Linked DNA regions of Homo sapiens. The protein of the gene in region 7 interacts with the protein of the main gene of each other region in a biochemical or structural test. Each region holds a gene or a part of one and is shown on either strand. Other genes may lie near its edges.

Region 1 (3,500 bases), on a different chromosome or scaffold from region 7:
GAGACCATGGCCAAAATTCAGGGGGTGATGGTGAGAGGGAGCCTGCCTAGAGCAGGGGTCCTGGGAGCTCTGTTGGAGGAAGCTAGAGCCACATACCTGGAGTAGCTCTGATGTCTTTAAAGCCCACCTGCGGGAGGCAGCGGTGTACCATAGGTTTGGAAGCCAGACAGTTCTGGGCTCCATCTGCCTGAATAACCTCGGGCAGGTCACTGTACCTCTCTGATCCTTGTTTCCTTGTCTGAAAAAATGAAGATAATAGGCTGGGCGCAGTGGCTCATGCCTGTAATCCCAGCACTTTGGGAGGCAGAGGTGGGCGGATCACCTGAGGTCAGGAGTTCGAGACCAGCCTGACCAACATGGTGAAACCCCGTCTCTACTAAAAATACAAAAATTAGTCGGGGGTGGTGGCACGTGTTTGTAATCCCAGCTACTCGGGAAGCTGAGGCATGAGAATTGCTTGAGCCCAGGAGGTGGAGGTTGCAGTGAGTCAAGAGTGTGCCATTGCACTTCAGTCTGGGCAACAAGAGTGAAACTCATAAAACAAACAAACAAACGAACACACCCATCTGACAGGGGCTCTGTGCAAATGAGGTAAGAAGTAGTGCTCCAGGGTGGGTTAGAACACTGCGGACCCTGAAGCCCAACTCCCTGGGCTCCTCCAGCTCCTTCACAGTTCTGCCACTTATTCATTGAGTGATCCTGGGTATGCTATCCAACCTTTCTGGGCCTCAGTTTCCTCATCTGTAAAATGGAGTTAATAACAATATCTACACGAGAGGATTCATGTGGAGATTGAATGAATTAATACATGGAAAGCGCTTAGAACAAATAGTGCTTAGCACACAGTAAGAGCAGTGAAAAAATGTTAGCTATTATTACATAAAGTCACATAGCGTGGGGCCTGGCAGAAGGCTGAGACTCACTCGGTACACGTGTGGCCTCTTCCCCATGCTCCAGGCCTTTACTCTGCGCCCAGCAAATTCAGAGACCTTGGTAGGCAGGGGTGGGACAGATGAGGAAAGGGCAGGCAGCAAGTCTGGTCTGACGTCTTCCTCCCAGCTGCCACCTCCATGAAGGGACCACTCACATTCCTTCCATACCCCTCATCCCTCACCCACCGCCCAGGTACTCAAACAGCAGCCTGGCCTGGCCTGATCCCTCCTTCCTCTGAGAACTTCCACTCCTCACCATTCTTGCCACTCATTTTGTCCTGAGTGTTGCCTCTATGGCATGGCTAGGCCTGCAACCCTGTCTCCCTGGATGGAGGGGAGCAGGGGTTCTGCAAGCGCTAAGAGTGCAGTGTTTGCTCAGCCTCGTGGCCCCTCCTGCGCTGTGCACACAGCCAAGAAATGTTTGTAGATGATAACAACCCCATTCTTGCCCCAGATCTAGATAGAGAAGCAAGACTCTCATTCTCATTAAATTCAACATTACCATTTCCTCCCACACGAAGATAATGCTCACAACACAGTGGGAGGGAAGATAAATGGTTTTCCCTCCTGGGAAGGAGAGACACCCCCTGGGAAAAGTACCCAAGACCCCAAAGGAGAGACTTCCCTGAGCCTCTCCCTGGGCTCACTGTCTCACGTGCTGTCTCTCAGTGGCCTTAGCCCCTGCGGGGAGCATGCTGACATCCCACTGCAAGCAGACGACAGCATGTGGTAGACCATACACTGCCCTAGCTGTCAAGAATACCACGTTGGGCCGGGCGTGGTGGCTCAGCACTTTGGGACGCCAAGGAGGGAGGACCGCTTGAGCCCAGGAGTTTGAGACCAGTCTGGGCAACACAGAGAGACCCCGTCTCTGCTTAAAAGAATTGGGCGGATAGCAACTAGAAGGGCCAGCCTGGTGTTCCTTTTTTGCAATTATTGCTCACTGCAGCCTCAAACTCCTGAACTCACTTGAGTAAGCTATGTTCGCAACACTGCACTCCAGCCTGAGCAGCAGAGCAAGACCCCTGTCCCAAAAACAAACCAAAACCAAAAAAAAAAAAAAAAGAAAAAGAAAAAAAACACCACCAGGCCAGCCCCTCTAGTTGCTATCTCCAAGTGTAAGCCAGCTTGCAGGGTGGATGGGGGTGGGGGTAAAGGAAGGAGAGTTGCCACCATACCAGCTTCAGCCCACCACCGCCTACAGCAGAGCCGGAGCTGGGCCCATGCAAAGAGCGTGGGAAACGCAGCTCTTCAGCGTGGAGCAACTCAGCAGGGGCCCCTAGCACTCCTATATATCACTCTAGGTGGCAGGACTGCAAGGGGGCCAAGCCAAGATCAACAACAAAAGCAGAGCTATTCTCTAATCAACCAGGCTTGGGGGGGTATGTGGACAATTCCAGGTAAAAAGACCTGAGCATTAGTCAGGACCAACGACTAAAAAGCAAGCAAACAAAACCTTCGCGTACAGAGGACCCAGGACCAAAAGGAGACAGGGACGCATCTCACTCTATCTGCACTAGAAAGGCCACACCCTGAGCACAGCAGAAGGGATACTGGCATCCTGGAACCTGTCCAGAGGGGACGGTGCAGGAGGATATGGGAATCCTGGGTGGATGACATGGATGGGGGTGGACATGACAGCTGATGTCCAATGCAGTAGAGGGAAAGTTCACAGGATTGGGAGTCTGTCTTATGAGTAATGTAAGCTCTGGTGGGCTTCACTTCTCTGATCCCCCAGTTTCTTCTGCTGTAAAATGTGGATCGTGGTGACAGAAGCACGGGATCATTGGGAGGACTAAAGAAAGTCCCTAGGCACAGCGGGGCCCCCCCAACAAGCTGCAGCTCGGCCCAGGCACCACTCTCCCCTCTTCCTCCACCAGGGGGAGCCTGGGGACCAAGAGAGCCCAGCCTGTACCCGCTCTACCTAGCCTCCCCCAATGCTGCAGCCTCTGCTGCTAAACTCCCACCCTGCCTGCCCTCGCTTCCAGCGGCTTCTCACCCACTCCTTACAAACCCAGAACAGACCTAGCAGGGGAGTCGCTTGCAGCAGCAGCAGTGACAGCAATGGCTACTGCATCAACAGGCCCTCCTGATGCCAGGCCAGGAGGGAGAGTGGAAAGGAGGGAGACAGAGCCTTCTTCCCTGCCGCTGTCAACTCCCCACTCATCCCAGACTCATCTCCTCCTGCTCAAATCCTCTAGAGACCTAAGGCTCTCCTGGCCTCTCCTAGCTCAGTGCCAGGCCAGGTCCTGAGGCTAAGAGACTCCTGTGGGTTGGAGAGCTCTAGAGAAAAAAATACCAGGCCTTGGAGACAGGAAGACTTGGGTTCTAGTCCCAGCTCCATTAGCAACTAGTAGGGTAACCTTGAGTGAGGTCCCTTCATCTTGGAGCCTCAGTTTCCCCATCTCTAAAATGCAGTTGCCAACACTCACTGCAGAAGGCTTGTTGTGAAGTCAAAAAGAGGTAATAATGGGTGTGCAAATAGTTAATATATGGTCAGGAGAGAAACTTAAAGTACTACCTAAACCCCTTTATTAATCCAGTAGGAAATGCAAAGCAAGGAAACGC
Region 2 (3,500 bases), on a different chromosome or scaffold from region 7:
CGTCAGTGAATCAAATCGAAGACCTCCCACCAGATAGTACTACCTCTGCCACAACCTGATTTATGCTAACATCCTCCCTGTGTCTAGGCCAGTGCCTTCACCTCCCACCTGACCTCCTCCTTCCTGCCATGGCCCCTAGAGTGTCACCTGAACACAGGGGCCATACCGAGGCTGTTCACGCCTCAGTCCCCCAAGTTAACCACATTCCTCCTCTCAGAACCTCCTGTGGTTTATTATCTCACTGGGGGTAAAAGCACCAGCCCACAAAGCCCGTTTGGACCTGGTCGCCAAAGACCCCTGCCTTCAGCACCTGACTGTTCTCCTTGCCGGGCCGTTCCTGCCTTGCTGGCCTTTCTGCGGTTCTTCACTCCTGGCTGCCTCCTGCTTCTGGAACTTCGAACTTGCTGTTTCTTTTGCCTGGAATACTTTTCCCCCAAGAACCTGCTGGCCTCGGTCGCCTATTTCCTTCATGTCTTTGCCCAAGTGTGACCTCATGAGTGAGACGTTTCCCATCACACTATGGACGATGGAACCCCCAGGTCCCTGCCACTCCTTTCCTTTAATGATGCTTTACTTTTTTCCATAGAACTGTTCACGCACTGACATCAGTTTGATTGTTGTTGCTGTTATTGTATTTTGCTTGACTGCCTCCCTACTGGGATACAGACTCCACCAGGCCGGCACTTTGTTTTATTTACTGCCATGTCCCAGTGCCTAGCACAGTGCCTGGCATGGGCTAAATGTGTGGGGGGAGAATTTGGGGAACATGGTGGTCTTACTTGCAAACTTCTAACAAGGCCTGGTCTCTACAGCAGGGCTTTGGTTAGGCATGACAGGGCATGCGAGCTCTCATCCTGTGTGGGTTCTTTTCCGGGTCTCTGTCTACTAATTATGAAGTAAAAGGAAGCTCTCCTCCAGTGAAAGTAATTTCCTGCATCCCATTAGAACAGCTGAGGGAAGTGTCAATGGGATAGGTGTGATTGGGACCACGGAGGCAGTGTCCTCCTGGGTGCCTGGATCACATCGCTGGAAGGAAACACCTGTTTCACCAACCCAAAGGCTACCTGCTGGTCCAGGGTCCAGGCCCGGCTGTACTGAGATCACAGCTCAGGGCCCTGCACATGCTGGGGCTCTGCTGACTTGATTCTAGAAATGTCTAATATCACCAGAACCATTCAAGTGCCACGAAATAACACATTTATGTATTATTCTGCTTCAGGTGAGCTCAGGAGGAAAAGACAGATATCTATTCACTAAAAATATTCTTTTGATTGGCCGGCACGGTGGCTTACACCTGTAATCCCAGCACTTTGGGAGGCTGAGGCAGGTGGATCACCTGAGGTCGGGAGTTCAAGACCAGCCTCACCAACATGGTGAAACCCCGTCTCTACTAAAATACAAAAAATTAGCCAGGCATTGTGGCACGCGCCTGTAGTCCCAGCTACTCAGGAAGCTGAGGCAGGAGAATCGCTTGAACCTGGGAGGCGGAGGTTGCAGTGAGCTAACATCTCACCACTGCACTCCAGCCTGGTGACAGAGCAAGTCTCTGTCTCAAAAAAAAAAAAGTTATTTTGATCAACTTCTTATGGACAAAGTTCAGAAAGCAAAGAACAATGTTTTACTACATACACATACACATGCATGCACACAAACTAGAAAAAAAAATTTTTTTGAGTGCTTTGTCTGGCATCTGGCGATGGTGTTTCCCGCACCATCTGGCCTGTGGTCTGTGGGGACGTACATACGTCTTGTTAGGGCTCTCCATCCAGTCCACACATCAATGGCTTGCCTGGCTTACGTAGTCTGAGCAGGTGCCCAGCTTTGTCGCAGATATTGAAGCCGTGTAAAATAAATGCCTTTTGATTGTTCACACTTTAAGCAATATTGGTACAATATTAAACCCATTGTCCCAGGCACTCCCTCTCCTTACTGCTTATGGCACTTCATGTATTAAAAAATGACAGTGGCAGCATTGCCCAGACATGCGTTTTGTCATCAAGTCTTAATGCAGTCCACCTGGTCCCTCAGGCAAATGAATGGAGGCACAGAAGATGAAATGATTTTCAAAATGCCATTAGGAAAGCTCAGGCCAGAACTGGAAATGGGTCCCGCACAGGGCACTCGGCCACTCTTGCCTGGCCATCTCCTTTTTGGCACTAAGCCACAAGCACACAATGATATAGAATGAATGGTTATCACTGGGGATCCAGAAGGGTCATTCAATCAGTTCTCAGTCTTATCAGGTCTAAGTTCCTTTCTTATCAGGTCCTAAAGGCCTAATCTTATCATTGTGACAAAGATAACTGTAGAGTCTGTTAAACTTTTTTTTAATAACATGAAGATTATGATTTATAGCTGAATTTCTCCCTTTTATTCCAATTCAACAATTTTCATGGCTTTTTGTGTTTGTTTTGTTCTGGACATATTTACAGAAAATTACCTGAAGAGTTCCAACCTGAGGCCTCCTCATGGATGGGTCAAACGTGACATCATTTGTTGTTGAGGAACCCACGAACATCTCAACTGGCAGGAACGCCTCAGTCGGGAATGCACATCGGCAAATCCCCATCGTGCACTGGGTCATTATGAGCATCTCCCCAGTGGGGTTTGTTGAGAATGGGATTCTCCTCTGGTTCCTGTGCTTCCGGATGAGAAGAAATCCCTTCACTGTCTACATCACCCACCTGTCTATCGCAGACATCTCACTGCTCTTCTGTATTTTCATCTTGTCTATCGACTATGCTTTAGATTATGAGCTTTCTTCTGGCCATTACTACACAATTGTCACATTATCAGTGACTTTTCTGTTTGGCTACAACACGGGCCTCTATCTGCTGACGGCCATTAGTGTGGAGAGGTGCCTGTCAGTCCTTTACCCCATCTGGTACCGATGCCATCGCCCCAAGTACCAGTCGGCATTGGTCTGTGCCCTTCTGTGGGCTCTTTCTTGCTTGGTGACCACCATGGAGTATGTCATGTGCATCGACAGAGAAGAAGAGAGTCACTCTCGGAATGACTGCCGAGCAGTCATCATCTTTATAGCCATCCTGAGCTTCCTGGTCTTCACGCCCCTCATGCTGGTGTCCAGCACCATCTTGGTCGTGAAGATCCGGAAGAACACGTGGGCTTCCCATTCCTCCAAGCTTTACATAGTCATCATGGTCACCATCATTATATTCCTCATCTTCGCTATGCCCATGAGACTCCTTTACCTGCTGTACTATGAGTATTGGTCGACCTTTGGGAACCTACACCACATTTCCCTGCTCTTCTCCACAATCAACAGTAGCGCCAACCCTTTCATTTACTTCTTTGTGGGAAGCAGTAAGAAGAAGAGATTCAAGGAGTCCTTAAAAGTTGTTCTGACCAGGGCTTTCAAAGATGAAATGCAACCTCGGCGCCAGAAAGACAATTGTAATACGGTCACAGTTGAGACTGTCGTCTAAGAACTGTGAGGGAAGTTGTGGATAAAAATGGTGGAACACAGGTCATTTTTAGTT
Region 3 (4,095 bases), about 93 Mb from region 7:
TTTTTAATATGATAGTGTTAACACTACATTACTAATATGTGTTAACACTATATTATTAATATAATAATGTTAATACTATTAACACTATATTATTAATATAATGGTGTTAGCACTATATTATTAATATAATAGTGTTAACACTATATTATTATTATTATTTGAGACAGAGTCTTGCTCTGTCGCCCAGGCTGGAGTGCAGTGGTGCCATCTCTGCTCACTGCAAGCTCCGCCTCCCAGGTTCACACCATTCTCCTGCCTCAGTCTCCCGAGTAACTGGGACTACAGGCGCCCCCACCACGCCCGGCTAATTTTTTGTATTTTTTAGTAGAGACGGGGTTTCACCGTGTTAGACAGGATGGTCTCGATCTTCTGACCTCGTGATCCGCCTGCCTTGGCCTCCCAAAGGACTGGGATTACAGGCGTGAGCCACCGCGCCCGGCCTAACACTATATTATGAAACACTATATTATTATTATAGTGTAGATACTATTACATTATTAATAGTGTTAACACTATTATCATTAATATAATAGTGTTAATACTATTAACACTTTATTATTATTAATTATAATATTAATATACGAGTGTTATTAATTATTAATATAATTATAATACTGTTAACACTATATTATTAACAATTATTATTAATATAATAGTGTTATTAATATAATATGTGTTAACACTATAATAGTGTTAACACTATATTATATTGTTAATATTATAGTGTTAACACTATTATATGATTAATAGTGTTAATCATGTATTATTAATATAGCAGTGTTAATAGTAACCCTATATTATTAATACAATAGTGTTAATGCTATTAACGCTATATTATTAATATAAGTGTTAACACTCAACACTATATTACTAATATAATAGTGTTAATAGTATATCATTAATATAATAGTGTTAATACTATTAACACCATATTATTAATACTATTATTATTCCCATTTTACAGATTAGAAGCCCAGGACCCAGGAAGGAGACACAGGAAATTTATTCAAAGTCCCCACGCTGGTAATGGCAGAGCTAGGATTTGAATTCAGATCCCTCCCGCTCTCTGTTCCTCCGCCCCCACACACCCGTGAGCGAAGCCGGTACTGTGGGCAGACGCCAGGGCCTGGTTTCCCCACCCTCCACCCGCCAGGTTTGCGGTGGCCGGGGCGGCAGGTAGGGAGGTGAGCCCGCGTCTCCTCCGCAGAGCTGGAGCTGGAGCTCCGCTCAGAGGCCCAGGCTCAGTGGGCTCCTCCCCCGGGTCGGGGCAACCCCCCGCCGGGGCCTCTGGGGCCAACGGAAGCTCCAGGAGCGCGGTGGAGCCTGGAGTGGAGGGCGAGGGTCCCACCGTGACCCGCCTGGAGGGCAGCCCAGCTCTGGGACGCGAAACCGCCTACGACGGTGCCGCAGGTGGAGGGAAGGGTAGAGGGGAGACCAGTATGGGGGAGAGCAAGGTGGCCCCACAGGTTGGGAGAGGATGTGGGGAAGTCCCCCTACCCACCCAAGGCCGAACATCGCCTAACTGGCTGTGGGACGCCCGGGGCAGGGGCTGGGGGCGGATGGCCTGGTTAGGGCCCAGCTTGGGGTCTTGAAAATATCCCTATGGCTTTGGGGCCACAGAAGGGCGGAGTCCTGGCATTCAGGGGAAAGGGCCGAGGACGGTTGTCAACGGGAAGGAACCTCTGACCCTACCCTGGGTCAATGTGCAGTCCAAGTTGCCACAAATGACCGGAGGAAACAGTGGGAAGGGAAGGTCTCTTTCCCATTCCAAACCAGGATGCCCTTCAGGTCGCCCACTTCCTTCATCCCCAGAGCAGCTGCCGACTTTCCTGTTAAGTGCCAGGGCCTGGGAGGTGCGGGGCTGCAGCTCAGGCGCTGAAGGGGGCCTAGGGTCCAGGAACCTCCTGCCAAGCCAGTGGTCCTCAGACGCTGGTCCAGGCACCACCACGGGGTACACAGCTTTTCTTACCTCCTGGTGTTATGGGTCCTTTCTGTTTTTTGAGACGGAGTCTCGCTGTGGCTGTGTCGCCCAGGCTGGAGTGCAGTGGCACGATCTCGCCTCACTGCAAGCTCCGCCTCCCGGGTTCACGCCATTCTCCTGCCTCAGCCTCCTGAGTAGCTGGGACTACAGGCGCCCCCACCACGCCTGGCTAATTTTTTTTTTTTTTTTTTTTTTTGTATTTTTAGTAGAGACGGGGTTTCACCGTGTTAGCTAGGATGGTCTCGATCTCCTGATCTCGTGATCCACCTGCCTCGGCCTCCCAAAGTGCTGGGATTACAGGCGTGAGCCACCGCACCCGGCCCATGGGTCCTTTAAAAAATAATAATTTGGCCAGACGTGGGGCCTCATGCCTGTAATTTCAGCACTTTGGGAGGTAAAGGTGGGAGGATCACTTGAGCCCAGGGGTTGCCTGGGCAACATAGCAAGACCCCATCTCAAAAAAAAAATTAGCCAGGTGTAATGGCATACACCTGTAGTCCCAGCTACTCGGGAGGCTGAGGCAGGAGGATCGCTTGTGCCCAGGAGGCATGAATGCACCACTGCACTCCAGCCTGGGTGACACAAGACCCTGTCTCAAAAAAGAACAACAACAAAAATTTGAATAAAAACCAAACCAGTGACAGTAGATAAGTTGCTTTGTTTTTAATGCTCTTGGCAAAATAAAAAGTTGGCAGTCGTATATTCCCCCATTCTCTCTCTCTTTCTCACACATGCACATGCCTATAAGAAAGCATTCTCTGGATCCACAGAATTCCAGATTTGGGAATCACTGAATTGAACTGCCGGCCATTGGTGGCTGGTGAGACTGTCCTGGCAGTGATGCAGTATTCTGGTCCCTGTGCCAGCACTGATGGGCTGTGGAATCCTCCACCAGTCATTCCCTCTCTCCAGCTCTCCATCTCTGCTTCTGTACAAAAGGATCTACCAATCCCCTCTTATATTCAAATATCTATGACCTTTCAGTCTGGCCTATATCCGTGCGGATCTGAAGTTGTGTATCCGAAGATGTAACCTTGTCCAGTGCTGGCACTAAGGGCTGCTTCAGGGAGGGACCTGGACTGGTGCCCAGGGAAAGGAGGACAAGGTCCTCATCACTGGAGAGTGGAGGGGGCAGTGGGAATGGGACAGATAAGGGGTAGTGCCCTGGGGTATACCTGGCCCCAAAGTAACCCCGGGCTGTGAAGACAAAAGCACTGCATCACATGATGTGTTTCTGTGTCTCTCTCCCTAGCAGTTCCAAGAGCCTCTGAGTTCCTGCCTTTTTTCATCTCTGAATCCCCACCATTGGCCTACATTGGGAGTGGGGCGACCTGTAAGTGCACAGTGAATTTTTGCTGAGGGAGTGGCTGGGAGGGCTGCGTGGAGTGGACAGCACCAAGCTGCACTTTTCAGGGGAGTGGGGTTTGGAAAATCTGGGGAGCAGAACAGGCACCCCCGCCCCCAGGAAGGAACCCAGGTGTATTAGTCTGTTCTCATGCTGCTAATAAAGACATACCCAAGACTGGGTAACTTATAAAGGAAATAGGTTTAATTGACTCGCACCACATGGCTGCAGAGGCCTCACAATCATGGCTGAAGGCGAATGAAGAGCAGAGTCACATCTTTCATGGTGGCTGGCAGGAGAGAGCTTGAGCAGGGGAACTTCCACTTATAAAACCATCAGATCTTGTGAGACTTATTCACTACCACGAGAACCGTATGGGGGAAACTGCCCCCGTGATTCAATTATCTCCACCTGGCCCTGCTCTTGACACATGGGGATTATTACAATGCAAGGTGAGATTTGGGTGGGGACACAGCCAAACCAAATCACCAGGTACAGAGGCCAGAGGAGCCTGGGGATGACGGTGATGTTCCAGGTGTGGAGGGAGACGTGGCAGGCGTGGGGACAGGAAGGTTGGAAGGTTGGGGAACTTTATGAAGGGAAAACTGAGAAGATGAGGAAGGCTGATGAGATGGAAGTGGGGTTGGGGAGAGGGAAGAACCAGCATGAGCTCAAGGCTAGGGTTTGGGTGAAGGAGAGAAAAAAAGGTAGAAAATAAAGGAGACAGAGATCACTTCTAGTCACATACAGGTGGAGATGGGGTAGACAG
Region 4 (3,500 bases), on a different chromosome or scaffold from region 7:
AATTTAGCTTAATAAGAAACCAAATTATATTTCTCTAGCTGTAGCATAGCTTCTGTATTTAATACTGTGTATTAAATGCATTTTATTTTATTAAATGGCGTATCCTTTCCATTTTATGTTACTGTCATTTTTACAGCCTTTTTTCTTCTCTCAATATATTGACACAGCTCTTACCTTTTCAAGTTATGGATTATGTCACTTATATTTATTGAGTGCCTGCTATAAACCAAAAAAGAAAAACACCAATAAGAAGGGTTAGAATGAATAAGAGAATATTGACCACTAAGCTTTTGTATGCGTCAAATTTGTATGCAGATTAGTGCTATATGAATTATAAGTTCATCCTGAGCTCAGACCCACAGACCCCCCAAAAAAAAGAAAAGAAAAGAAAAAACAAATCTAGAACCAGAACTGGACTATTGTGGTTTATTATAAAAGGGATTCATTATCTGGCATCATGCAAAATGTATGGAGCATAAAGTGTAGTAATATAATACCTTTCTTGTCGGGTTTTCTTAAAATTAAGGAATGTCTCAACATGTTTTTTTTTTTTTTGAGACGGAGTCTCGTTTTGTCGCCCAGGCTGGAGTGCTGTGGCGCGATCTCCGCTCACTGCAAGCTCCGCCTTCCGGGTTCACACCATTCTCCTGCCTCAGCCTCCCGAGTAGCTGGGACTACAGGCGCCCGCCACCGCGCCCGGCTAATTTTTTGTATTTTTAGTAGAGACGGGGTTTCACCGTGGTCTCGATCTCCTGACCTCGTGATCCACCCGCCTCGGCCTCCCAAAGTGCTGGGATTACAGGCGTGAGCCACCGCGCCCGGCAACATGTTTTTATTTAATGGAGAGACGTGCCAAATTTAAACTTCAGGTCCAAAATATAGTAATTCTTTTAAGACAAGATTTTTGCATTTTCCCTTAAATATTATAATTTGATTCCTCATAGGTGAATATTACCAGAACTAATATGTTTAACTTCTAGGGCTCACACTTATTTATTTTGGCGTTATGGCTTATTATTTAAATCTTTTCAATGTTTTCAAGCTTTTGAAATATATTTACATATATTTAAGAGAATTTGTTAACATTTTATTTACTGCCAAACACCAGGCTATGTAAGCCTCTTTATCATTATAAACATATGTTTATAGCACATTACAATCTTCAAAGTAGGCTTACTTACATCTTTGATGTAATCCTCCTTTGTGAGCAGAAACTGATATCCCATATTTAATGCCTTAAATAAATGCAGAATCAGAATGTTAAATGACTTCTTGAAAATGCATTGGTGCCAGGTGAGTGTGCGGACCTACATCTACATTGTTAGCACATATTGAATCCATACTGCAGCACATGTTGGCACGAACATTTTTATTTCTTTACAAAAAAGAAAAAGGAAAAAGAAAGAGTATATTTATGATTTTTTTTCAGAGGATGAATGGCAGTACCAGTATCTGTGTAGGAGTTGGGAAGAATGAAGGAAATTGTCTAAGTAGTTCTGGCATCCCTGATCGATTGCTTATTGGATGTGTGGTCTTTGTTATATTTTTCATTTCCGGCATCTACCTTATTTTTCTTATTGTAGACCAGTATCTCTTCTCTGTTAGAGAGTTTTAGTATTATTCAGTGAGAAGTGTTTAAGCAAATACTGCATTTTGAAATAATAATTTGAAGTCATGGCAGTTCCACTTCATCATTAGACTTGAAACCAGAGAAGCCATATTGACTTTCTGTGACTCTAAGTCATAGGATACAAAAGGATTGGTTCTGAGGGGTTGGGATTTTCTTGTTGATGGTTGGCTCAGTCATTTGGATTGTGGCAAAGCTTTGGTCTTTTCTCTTTTGACTAGTCATCCTATATGCCAACAGAAAACCCACAGAAATGTCTTATCCAATTTTCTTTGTAAAGCCAGCAGTCACTGAGATCATTTTTAAACCTGTAAAATTCCCTTTACAGCCCCATTTGCTAAGAAGATTTTATTTGTAATTGTATGTTATTTTCCATAAAATGTGAATCTCTTAAGGATTGTTATCATAGCTAATATATTTGTAGGTACTACACCAGCTATTGAGTTCTATATACTGTTGTTTTTAAACATGAAAGTCAAATATAACTCTTAAATTATATGAAAGAAGTGTCAGTCATGTTGGTAGTGATAAGTCACAAAAGCATTCTCATTTTGAAAATTTGATGATGAAACAAATGGAAAAAAACACAGCAAGACTGATATACCCAGATATACTAAGGGTATTATAACTGTCTTGTCTATCAAATAATAAAAGTCATGGTTAAGATATATTACTGACATAATGTGTAAATTGTAGCAGTAATAGCAACTTTTAATCGTGTTTGATTAATCCCTTTTTGAGATGTTGTAATCCTTGGTGTACACTATCTCGAAAGCAGTTTTTCAAACATGCTTAAAGAATCTCACTTTTTATGAATGTGATTTGCAATAGAACACTATCTTCTATTTTGTTATTCATCATAACAGGAATACATACAATGGCACATTTTTAATGCTGATGCTGGGCCCAAATTATAGCAGCTGCACTTTCAGTCGGCTCTATCAAACTCACTCCATGGATTTGTTCCGTTTCAAACCGCAAAATTTGACTAAGAGTATGACAATATGCACTTTTAAGGAATTATGTATACATTTCCACTATATTTTGTGTGCTGTTTCGAAATAGTAACAACATTTATCTTATTGTTGGACACTTTATTGTTAAATCTCATTAATGAATATTACTTATAAATATTTTACTACTAGGTAAACCTTGGTAAAGAATGTTTTCCAAATGCTGCTTTTTCTTTTTTTAACTGTTCACGACGCATGTGCACATGTGGACACACACACACACACCCACGCGCATGCATATATAGTGAATTGAAAGCTCAGGAAACAAAATATACTATAAAAATGCTTTTATTTTTTGAGACAAGGTTTTGCCCTGTCACCCAGGCTGGAGTGCAGTGGTGTGATCCTAGCTCATTGCAGGCTCAAACTTCCAGGCTCAAATGATCCTCCCACCTCAGCCTCCCAAGTAGGTGGGACTACAGGCTGGCCACAAGCCTGGTTAAATTGTTTTTATTATTTTTTTTAGAGAAGGGGTCTTGCTGTGCTGCCCAGGCTGGTCTTGAACTCCCTGACTCAAGTGATCCTCCTGCCTTGGCCTCCCATAGGGTTGGAGTTGCAAGCATGAGCTACAGTGCCTGGCATAAAAATGCTTTTAAAAAGATGAAGACTTGAAGAATATTTTTTAAATATTAAAGTTTAAACAGTATTATGTAACTTGTTACCATGTAACTCAAATAACATGGCTGAAATGTTTGCAGTAAACCACATATCATATTTTTCAGGGTCCAATTCTCTCAGGTGATGAATCTCTGGGTAGTTTGCTTTTAACTTCAAATGCTCACTAATTATTTATTTAACTGAGGAAATATCCAAGGGGAGAAATACTGGATTCACAACTTAAAGACTTCTGGAGTTTGAAG
Region 5 (3,500 bases), on a different chromosome or scaffold from region 7:
CCTGTTCTCAGTTCCTGGGCTCAGCCCTCCTCCAAGGCCTGCCAGTGAGTAGCAGTTTGGAAGGCAGGCCAAGGGAGATCCCCAAAGACAGTTATCAGTCTTAACTTCTGCTGTCTCCCGTCAAATACTTATACAGGCCCCCATGGGTAATAGGCAAGCATGATGGCTGATAGAGAAGTCAGTGCATGAGTTACTATCACATGTCCCCCCAACCCCTCCTGCCACCTCCCAGGGCTCTGGATAATTGAATCTTCCTGAGTCCCACAGCTGGAGACTCAACCAGGATATAGCTGTAAATGCCCAAGTAGAATCTGACAGAATAAGACAGAGACACTGAAAATAAAGCCCTAGAAAGGAAGAAATTGGAAGCAAAGAAAAGGAGAGGTGAAAAGATAAAAAGCCTCCTTCAAGGTTAGGTTCAGGTTCTGTTTTCCATTTAACCTCATGTGCCATAAAGCTGCCCAGGCACACCAGAGCCACATCCTGAACCCGACCCTCCCTGACAGTGCTGCTCTGCCAGTAGCAAGCCCCAGATGGAGGAAGCTGGGCCCATTTCTGGCCACTTCCACCCATTTGGAGCTTTGCCAGAGGAGTCGTCTATGCCAATAATATTTCTGCAACAGCATATTATATTATTTGAAGATTAGTAGATCTTTTTGGGGGGGTGGGGCAGGGGACAGTTTCTATAGATGAAGAACCAGTGTTGGTTGTACAGCTGTTGGGGGTCATCTATCCCATGTGAAGCTATTCTTTTTCCAAATCTTGTTGTTTCTGCATTTGTGTCCTCCACCACTCCCTTCTTGGCTGACATAGATATGCCTGCCAGATTGTCATCAAGGGTCATATTTCAATAAAAGGTGCTAAGGACAAAAAAAAATCTCATGTGTTTTAACTCAGGTGATGGAAGTCTAAAGATTCTGCTGAAAAGTACTGGAAAGGAATTTGGTCACCTATCCATAGTCCTTCACAGATAAACATATGACCAGACCCTTACCCACATCCCTAAACCCTTACCCTGGCCTCTGAGGGATGGTATTGATGCTATACCATTCATCATCCCCAGTTAAATAGCAGGATCTGCCATAGCCTTTTTAGGGGAACAGCTTTTAGACATCTATTTCAAGACCATCCTGAGTAGGGGGTACAGAGTTTAAGCCATTGGTTATTTCTGTTGTTATCACAGTATTGAAGCATGGTATTTTTCTACTCAGAAGGATCTCAGGATCACAGCCCTGCCCTTTAGCTCACTGATATATTTCTTCCTCTCTGGTTACTCAGTGGCAACATCACATCCAGTCTAACCCCATGTTTAGAATGCAGAAAAAGTCAACAATAGGTGTAATCTCAGGTATAGACCTAAGCAGTATACAGAGTCTAGTTCTGGAGTCTAGCCTGATCGAAGGTAAGCCATTCTTTCTAGACTTCTTCCAATCTTGAATTCTGTCTAGTATTTTCATCTTACTTCTAGCTGATAGTCCAATCTCACACCTTCATGCTCAGCTCCCTGGAAAGCAAGGGCCTTGGTGATCTGCTCTCCAAGGCAACCTCAAAGATTAGACTCAAATGTATTCCAGGAAGCAACTCTGACATTGAAAAGCTTTCTTTTTTCGTGATCCATATTCTGTTCACATTCCAACTATCCTCCTTCTACTCAAGATATCCATTGTGGTAGAGTAGAAAGAGTCCAGCTTTGGCATTAGAATGAACTGTGTTCAAATCCTGGTTCTGCCACTTATTCAATGAACCTGGGCTACTAGCTCAACTTCTGAGGTCATTTTCTTATCTGTAAAATGGGAACAGTATTATCTTGCTTGCAGTTATTGTAACTTGAAAATAATAAATAAAAGCCACTAACAATCCAAGAAGTTATTAGGCAGAATCCCAGGCCCACCCCAAACCCAGTGATAGCAGTCTGAATTTTAACTAGATTTCCAGGAGATTCATGAACATATTACAGCATGGGAAGTACTGACTTGTTGAAAACATATTCAGTACATGGTAACCATTATTATAGTCCTGATCTACTCAATTCATTTTTTCCTTATCCCAGGCATATTCTTGCTCTTCTCGTGTTGCTCACAACTACCTGCCTGGATGAATTTAGGAAAGTTGCAGGATACAAGGTTAAAACACAAGATCAAATGAACAATCCGAAAATGTTATTAAGAAAACAGTTCCGGCCGGGCATGGTGGCTCACGCCTGAAATCCCAGCACTTTGGGAGGCCGAGGCAGGTGGATCACGAGGTCAGGAGATCAAGACCATCCTGGCTAACACGGTGAAACCCTATCTCTACTAAAAATACAAAAAATTAGCCAGGTGTGGTGGCACGCACCAGTAGTCCCAGCTACTCGGGAGGCTGAGGCAGGAGAATTGCTTGAACCTGGAAGGCAGAGATTGCAGTGAGCTGAGACCACACCACTGCACTCCATCCTGGGCAACAGAGTGAGACTTTGTCTCAAAAAGAAAGAAAGAAAGAAAGAAAGAAAGAAAGAAAGAAAAGAAAGAAAGAAAGAAAGAAAGAAAACAGTTCCATTTACAATAGCATCAAAAAGAAAAAAGTACTTAGGAATAATTTAACAAAAGAAGTGCGAAACTTTTACACTGAAAACTATAAAACATTGTTGAAAGAGATTAGAGAAGATCAAAATAAATGGAAAGACACTCCATGTTCATGGATTGGAAGACTTAGTATTGTTAAGATGAAATGTGCCCCAAATTGATCTACAGATTCAATCCAGTGCTTATCAGAATTCCAGTGGCTTCCTTGTGTAAGTTTACAAGCTGATTCTAAAATTCATATGGAATTACAAGGGACCTGGAACAGTCAAAACAATCTTTAAAAAGAACAGTTGGAGGGCTCATACATCCCAACTTCAAAACTTACTGCAAAACTACAGTAATCAAGACAGTGTGGTACAGACACAAGGGTAGGTGTATAAATAAATGGAATTAAATTGAGAGTCCAGAAATAAATCCTCATGTATATGGTTAGTTAATTTCAACAAGGGTCCCAAGAGAAATTGAGGAGAGAATAGTTTTTTAACAAATGATGCTGAGACAACTGGGTATCTACATGGGAAAAAATGAAGTTTTCCTTAAATCACATGCAAGAATCAACTCAAAATGGATTATAGAATGTAAGAGTCAAAATTATAAAATTCTTAGAAGAAAACATTGTAATAAGTCTTCCTAATGTTAAGACGATTTGCACAAGTGATACAAGAAATAGAAATAAATTGGAGTAAATCAAAATTAAAAACTTTTGTGCTAAAAATATACCATATAAAAAAGTGAAAAGACAAGCAACATAATATTAGGAGAAAATATTTGCATATCAGATACTTCAAAATATGAAAAGGACTCTTACAACTCAATGATAAAAATAACCAATTAAAAATGGGTTAACAGATTGTAATAGACATTTCTTCAAAGAAAATATGTGTTTTAGTATGCTTGGGTTGCTATAACATACTACCATAGACTGATTGTCTTAAATAA
Region 6 (2,695 bases), on a different chromosome or scaffold from region 7:
TCTCTAATTCCAGTCCTGCCCACCTGGCTTCTGGTCTGGCCTGGTACTGTCTCCAGGCAGTGGAAAGCCTGTGAGTTAGACATTAAAAAACAAACAAGCAAACAAAAAAAACTGGTCTGGGTTTCAACTTACCTGAAAATAAGGGTCAACATTCCCATTATAACTTTATTTAAATGCCAAATTGCTATGTGCAATGTTATCATAGATTATGGTAAGGTTAACTGTATCTTAGCTAGAAAGCCCTCACACCAGTGGTATGAAAGTACAGGAACTTGGCTGGGCGTCGTGGCTCATGCCTATAATTCCAGAACTTTGGGAGGCTGAGGCAGGAGGATTGATCACTTGAGCCTAGGAGACCAGCTTCAGCAACATGGTGAGACCTTGTCTCTCCAAAAAAAAAAAAAAAGGAAAGAACAGCAACTTTTTTTTTACTATACTCAGAAGTCCATTGTGTTCTAGTGACAGTCATCACTTAAGAAGCTTTATGCAGTTGACTCCACTTGGCACTGGCAACAAAGGAATTTTTAATGAGTTTGACAGGGAAAGGACACCCACACAGGATTTTTTGGTTTTCTTCTACACAGGTTTTTAAAAGCCTGGTTTGGTTTCAGCACATTGAGCTTACAGAAAAAATAAAACGCTAGCAAGTCATCAGACTCTTCAATGAAAATGTATTTCACATTAAACACAAGGTACATATCATGCAAATGAGGCATCACCATGGTCACAATGGTGCTGTGAGGTACAACAAATCACAAGAAAACAGACATTTAGCAAAATAAGGTTCCAGGAAAGATGAGAGGCATTTTCTGAAAGCCAGACCATGCTATGGTTTCTGTGTGCCTGTCATAAAGGGACTTGGCCAGTATTTGCCGAGATGGACAGCACCGCATTATGTGGAGGCATGTACTTTATTGAGTAGAGACACATACACAGACATATAATTTCTGTAACTAATACATTCTTAAATGTAGCTGGCTGTAAAAGCACATGAACAAGATTACTACTGAGACTTCTTTGTATCTCCTGGTTGCAAACCTCTCTCAGAATTATGAATCTTTCCAAACCCTTAATTATACAAGTCAAAACAAAAAGTTTCAAAGAAGAAAAGGTCATTTTAATTTGAAAGCCACATTTCGCCACAAGAAACAAAATTAAGAAAACACACCATTATATGGCATAAAATGTGTGGAGTATACATTCTAGTGTCATTTTTCCCATTCAGATTTTTTCTTGAAGTCCATTAAAGTGACATACTGGGTCCAATGTGGGCCCCCTATTGTTTCAGAATGCTATGGTTTTTGTTTGCGCCTGGTTTTATTAAAGCTGGGCAAACACAGGAGCAAACAAAGAAAACTCCCAAGATCCAATAGAAAAAAAATTAGCAAGAACATTGAAAACCAACCACCTGCACGCGAGACATAGGATTCATTCAGCTGGAAAGCCACTCCATGGTCTGGAGTGACTACAGCATGAAGATTTTAAGGTGTGACACGAAAGAGTCCTTGCTAGATTCAGTTGCCCATGTATACACGAATATGCATAAGAGAACAGAAATCATTACTGACTGTTTTGACTTCCTTCCTCAACCAAACTTACTACTTTAACCCCAGAAGAATAATGTGGGGCAATGCATTTCTGCAGGTGGCAAAGCTTAACAACAATTTTTTAAAGGCTTCTTGATACTGCTTTCCAACAGAGAAACTCTGGAGATGGGGAACCTCCTGAATTTCTTCTCTGTCTCAAAAAAGACAGGGAGATATACAGTGCAAGTTGAGTATATGTTGAACTAGAGTTTGGGTAAATGTCTAGAATATTTTACAGGAAAAGACATCTAAATGTTTATGTGCTCCAACTTTGGGAATAAGAATGGTTATAAAGCGAATTGCCGAGCCAGTCACTCAGGTTATTCAGAGGGTCACTATGATAATAGAGAAGTTCAGGAAGTGCTTTATCAGTAGCTGAAGCTCATAAACAGAACTGTAAAAGGAAACTTTGCTAAAGCCCAGCAAGGTGAAAGTTTCAAGGTTTCTACCAAGAGTGGCCAGTGTTTGACATACTACCTAGGAATACAGTTACATTCCGAGCTAATAATTTGGGATCCAGCGGTAAGGGTGACAGAAGCTTCTTCAAGCAGCTAGTAGCTCGGATTTGACTATCAGCAGCTTTACGGGTTCTCCAAACACCTGTGTCAATTCAGAAACAAAACCAGATGAGATCAAAGGGAAAACCAAGTATTGTGCAGTTTGTAGCACTATTCTCTCACTAAAACGATCACAACACACTGTGGCACTTTCTACCTTCTTGGCAATTATATTTTCCTCCTGGGCTTATACAGTATTTCTCAACAGAAGTGATAGAGTATTTTACATAGGACTATTCTTTTAGATGGGTCAAATTTTCCTTGTATGGAACTTTTCTAAAACCTGCAGATATTTAATGTCTCAAGCTTTGTCTTTCAAATGCCCCCAGCCACTCTGGCAACAAAAACCATCAACGTATGTCCAAACGTCTCCTGGTGGGGGTGGTACCACTTTTGGTAGAGAAGAATTTGAGAACTAGACCCAATCATAATTAAAAATATACAAGCAGTGTGAATAAAATAATTTGAGATTTTTCTTTTTGGACAGGGGTTTTGCATTTCTTTTAGAGATGTAAGAAATAAATTTGAGGACCTATGAATACTCTAATAAAT
Region 7 (3,500 bases):
GCAGGGGAATGAAGTCTTAGAACATGGCTGCAGGGCAGGGACACTGAGGATGGATTTGGGTTTGGCCACATGTGTGACCTGTGTCCCTGTGTCCACCTTTGGTAACCAATGGAAGAACCACGCTGTGGAGCAATACTTGAAGATCGGTCCAAGGCTGGCAGGAGTGAGGTCTCCAGGGGACCCAGGAGGTCCTTATTTGTGCCCTTGTCTCACTGAGGTATTTTTTTTTTTTTTTTTTTAGATAGGGTCTCACTCTGTACCCCAGGCTGGAGTGCAGTGGTGCCATCTTGGCTCACTGCAACCTCCACCTGTGGGAATCAAGTGATTCTCCCTCTTCAGCCTCCCGAGTAGCTGGGACCACAGGCATGCACCACCAGGTCTGGCTAACTTTTTGATTTTTTTGTAGAGACAAGATCTCACTATGTTGCCCAGACTTGTCTTGAACTCTTAGGCTCAAGCAGTCCTCCCGCCTCAGCCTCCCAAAGTGCTGGGATTACAGGCGTGAACCACCAAGCCTGGCCTCAATGGGCATCTTTATTAGCAACTTGGAAAGGGTCCCTGGAGATGTGGGCTGAGAAAGCAGGAGACAGAATTGGGACCCAGGAGATGGCAGTGGGGAAAAATCACAAGCATGCCTCTGCCCAGTGTGACTACATGTGAGAGTGAGCTATTGATCCCAAGAAGATGGAGTTGAGGATGATGGTGATCATGAGCACTGGGACGGGGCAGCCCTGGGAGCTGGAAGGAGCCCCTGCCATATTAAAAGGAGTATGATGTCCCAGTCAAAGGAGCTGAGAACCCTGTTCTCTCCTCTGAGCTGGTCAAGCCCCATTGGGGGTTCCATCTGGGAATGTCTCTTTGACAGGGACATGGACACTGGAGTGGGGGTTGGAAACCATGTTCTAAGAGAATGATCTGAAAAAAAAAAAAAGGGGTGGGGTGAACCTTGTTCATCTTGCAGATTGGTTGGTCTGTGGATAAGATTGCTCTGCCCGATTTTAAGGGCCAGAAAGAAAACAGGGCATGGGAATCCTGGGGAGACAAGATTTCAGAGCAAGACAAAGGATGGTTAAAATCGTCCAGTGAGGAAAGGAAGACCTTGACAGGTAGTGAGTTCCCCACCACTGAAGGTGTTCAAGCATACACTGCCAGTGTTGTGAGGGAGGAACTTCAAGCATCAAAGTGAAAGGGTGAAGGCTGGTGTGCAGGAGTTTGAACCAGCTGCTCTTTTAAAGGTTTAAGAGAACTTGTCTGGCCTCAAAAGTGATAGGTTTCAAGGATGGGTAGGGTGGCATTTCCAGGTGTCCCCAGTGTGTGTCTTTGGCTGAGGGACACAGATTGGCTTCAATGCCTGCAGTGGCCCCCAAGCGTGGGGACGTTCTTGGGCTGGGCCTCTACTCATCCTCTGCTTGGGGTAGGGAGGATGATGTTGGAAGATGCCTGGCCGATGGGTTTTCCTTCAGTGCTGCTGCCCAAGCCATCCTCCCCCAGTACAGAGCGCTGCTGGGTCCCAGGTCACCTACCTGACCCCAGATGGTGCCTTCTGAGTTCTCCACCTGTTCCCACCGCAAGCGCTTGACGCTCATGTGGCTGGTCTCACTGCGCCGGTGGCCCAGGCCCCGGGACAGCATGGGGGGTGCACAGGGCACGGGTGGGGGCAGGGGCGGTGGGGGTGGTGGAGGGACTGGGTGGCTGAGTTGGGTGAGGGGCTTGGCCAGCGCCTGAGCAGGGCCCCGGGAACCATCAGAGCTGCGGGAGCTGGGCTTAGCGTCATGGAAAGGCAGGGGTGGCGGTGGTGGGGGGCTGAGCGGGGGTGGGGGGATGTGGTCAGAGATGGAGGAGTAGGTCAGGGAGCTGCCTTCTTCACTGCTGCTGATGCAGTCGCTGGCGCTGCTCCGCTCATTGGTTACGAAGCTGCCCTGGTCATCATGGAAGCTCATCTGGTGGTGGGGAGAGAGGCAAGGGGAGGGTGAGGCTGGGCCCAGAGAGACTAGAGCAGGTGCAAAGTGAAGGATCATGGGATAGCCTGGGACAAGGACAGGGCCATCTCACGGGTTAGCCTCAGGCTGTGAGGGACACCTGGGCTAAGGATAGGACTGTCTCACAGGTTAACCTCAGGCTGTGAGGGGGATAGCCTGGGCTAAGGATAGGACCCTCTCATGGGTAAGCCTCAGGCTGTGAGGGGGATAGCCTGGAATAAGGACAGGACCCTGTCACGGGTTAGCCTCAGGCTGTGAGTGGGATAGCCTGAGCTAAGGAATGGGCTAACCTGCGACAGGGAATATGGGCTAGCCTCAGTCAAGGAGCATGATAACCTTGAACAGGAGATAGGGTAACCTGGGGCAAGGGGTGGGATAGCTTGAGCTAGGGAGTGGGATAGCCTGGGGAAGATCCCAAGGGCAGCAGGCCCCTTGCGGGAGCCCAGGAACACTGTTGCCTTGCAGACCGCCACACCTCGCCTCACCCGCCTCCCTCCACACCTGCTTGCGTGCCCACCTCCTCGTAGTCGTTCTCCGGGGTCAGGAAATCATCCACGATGGTGACCCGGGGGCCCAGCTGCTCGCTCAGCACGTCCAGGAAGCGGTCAGTATCGCGGCTTCGCACAGGGTGGGAGAAGGTGAAGAGCTTCCTGCGGCTGGGCGGGCGGGTGGGGTCCGGGCTTGGGGGGCTGTCGGGGCAGATGGGCCCGGGGCCTGGCTGTGGGGAGGGTGCCCTGCTGCTGTCCAGGCTGGCGTAGGGGTGGGACTCAGAGCTGCTGGGGGAGGCCAGACCCCCCGAACACAGCGGGTGGTAGCAGGGGGAGGGCAAGAGTCGCTCGCTGGGCCATGAGACGCCGGACAGGGTCCTGGGCCCTGGAGGAGGGATGGAGTATGAGGATTCCTCTTCAGCCAGCACCGAGGTTCCAGGTGCAAGCTGGAGAGAGGGTCCTAGGACAGACTGGCTCTGTGTCCCAGGCCACTCTCCTTTCCCTCTCTGGGCACAGTGCAGGAAGACCTTGAGCGGCCCTGCCTTCCAAGCATGACTAAAGGCCAGATCTGGTGAGCAGGAGCACTGCTCGGCCTCAGGACAGGCTGGACGCCAGCTCACCTTGGAATGGTCACCAGGGGTCCCAGCTGGGAGCCACTGAACACCATTAACTCAAAGGGTGGAGGGGTTTCTCTAGGGCCCAGAGCCACAGTCATGGAGCGTCTCGCGCACCCAGCAAGCCCTGAGATCACAGGAGGGCCTCCCAGGGCTCCTGCCTTCTGAGCTGCAGAGCAACTGTCTTCCCAGCTGTGCCAACGCTGGTACAACGCGTTGCACTTGATCATTTATCCAATAACCACTTGCTAACTCGGGGACTTCCTCAGAATCAGGCATCTGCCTTCTTTCTTTTTCTTTTTTAAGACAGGGTCTTACTCTGTTGCTTATAGGCTAGAGTGCAGTGGTTCGAAATAGCTCACTGCAGCCTTGAACTCCTGGGCTCAAGTGATCCTCCCGCCTCAGCCTCTTGAGGAGTT

What was found.
Region 1: the proteins of GRID2IP (region 7) and IQSEC2 interact in a test that uses a peptide from one of them, tested with the Homo sapiens proteins (one large-scale study listed by IntAct).
Region 2: the proteins of GRID2IP (region 7) and MAS1 interact in a test that uses a peptide from one of them, tested with the Homo sapiens proteins (one large-scale study listed by IntAct).
Region 3: the proteins of GRID2IP (region 7) and TMEM225B interact in a test that uses a peptide from one of them, tested with the Homo sapiens proteins (one large-scale study listed by IntAct).
Region 4: the proteins of GRID2IP (region 7) and CTNND2 interact in a test that uses a peptide from one of them, tested with the Homo sapiens proteins (one large-scale study listed by IntAct).
Region 5: the proteins of GRID2IP (region 7) and SHROOM4 interact in a test that uses a peptide from one of them, tested with the Homo sapiens proteins (one large-scale study listed by IntAct).
Region 6: the proteins of GRID2IP (region 7) and MAP7D2 interact in a test that uses a peptide from one of them, tested with the Homo sapiens proteins (one large-scale study listed by IntAct).

Annotation. Positions count from the first base shown.
Region 1 is NC_000023.11:53,314,851-53,318,350, forward strand, and holds part of IQSEC2 (IQ motif and SEC7 domain-containing protein 2), read right to left. Parts: intron 1-3,500. UniProt on the Homo sapiens protein: Is a guanine nucleotide exchange factor for the ARF GTP-binding proteins.
Region 2 is NC_000006.12:159,904,488-159,907,987, forward strand, and holds part of MAS1 (proto-oncogene Mas), read left to right. Parts: intron 1-2,432; 5' UTR 2,433-2,468; coding exon 2,469-3,446; 3' UTR 3,447-3,500. UniProt on the Homo sapiens protein: Receptor for angiotensin 1-7. Acts specifically as a functional antagonist of AGTR1 (angiotensin-2 type 1 receptor), although it up-regulates AGTR1 receptor levels.
Region 3 is NC_000007.14:99,596,972-99,601,066, forward strand, and holds the start of TMEM225B (transmembrane protein 225B), read left to right. Parts: upstream 1-1,295; 5' UTR 1,296-1,410; intron 1,411-1,632; exon of another isoform or gene 1,633-1,777; coding exon of another isoform or gene 1,778-1,831; intron 1,832-3,233; coding exon of another isoform or gene 3,234-3,314; intron 3,315-4,095.
Region 4 is NC_000005.10:11,341,447-11,344,946, reverse strand, and holds part of CTNND2 (catenin delta-2), read left to right. Parts: intron 1-3,500. UniProt on the Homo sapiens protein: Has a critical role in neuronal development, particularly in the formation and/or maintenance of dendritic spines and synapses. Involved in the regulation of Wnt signaling.
Region 5 is NC_000023.11:50,590,695-50,594,194, reverse strand, and holds part of SHROOM4 (protein Shroom4), read left to right. Parts: 3' UTR 1-3,500. UniProt on the Homo sapiens protein: Probable regulator of cytoskeletal architecture that plays an important role in development. May regulate cellular and cytoskeletal architecture by modulating the spatial distribution of myosin II.
Region 6 is NC_000023.11:20,006,213-20,008,907, forward strand, and holds the end of MAP7D2 (MAP7 domain-containing protein 2), read right to left. Parts: intron 2,187-2,695; 3' UTR 501-2,186; downstream 1-500. UniProt on the Homo sapiens protein: Microtubule-stabilizing protein that plays a role in the control of cell motility and neurite outgrowth via direct binding to the microtubule. Acts as a critical cofactor for kinesin transport.
Region 7 is NC_000007.14:6,506,462-6,509,961, forward strand, and holds part of GRID2IP (delphilin), read right to left. Parts: intron 2,853-3,500; coding exon 2,497-2,852; exon of another isoform or gene 2,445-2,496; intron 1,941-2,444; coding exon 1,524-1,940; intron 1-1,523.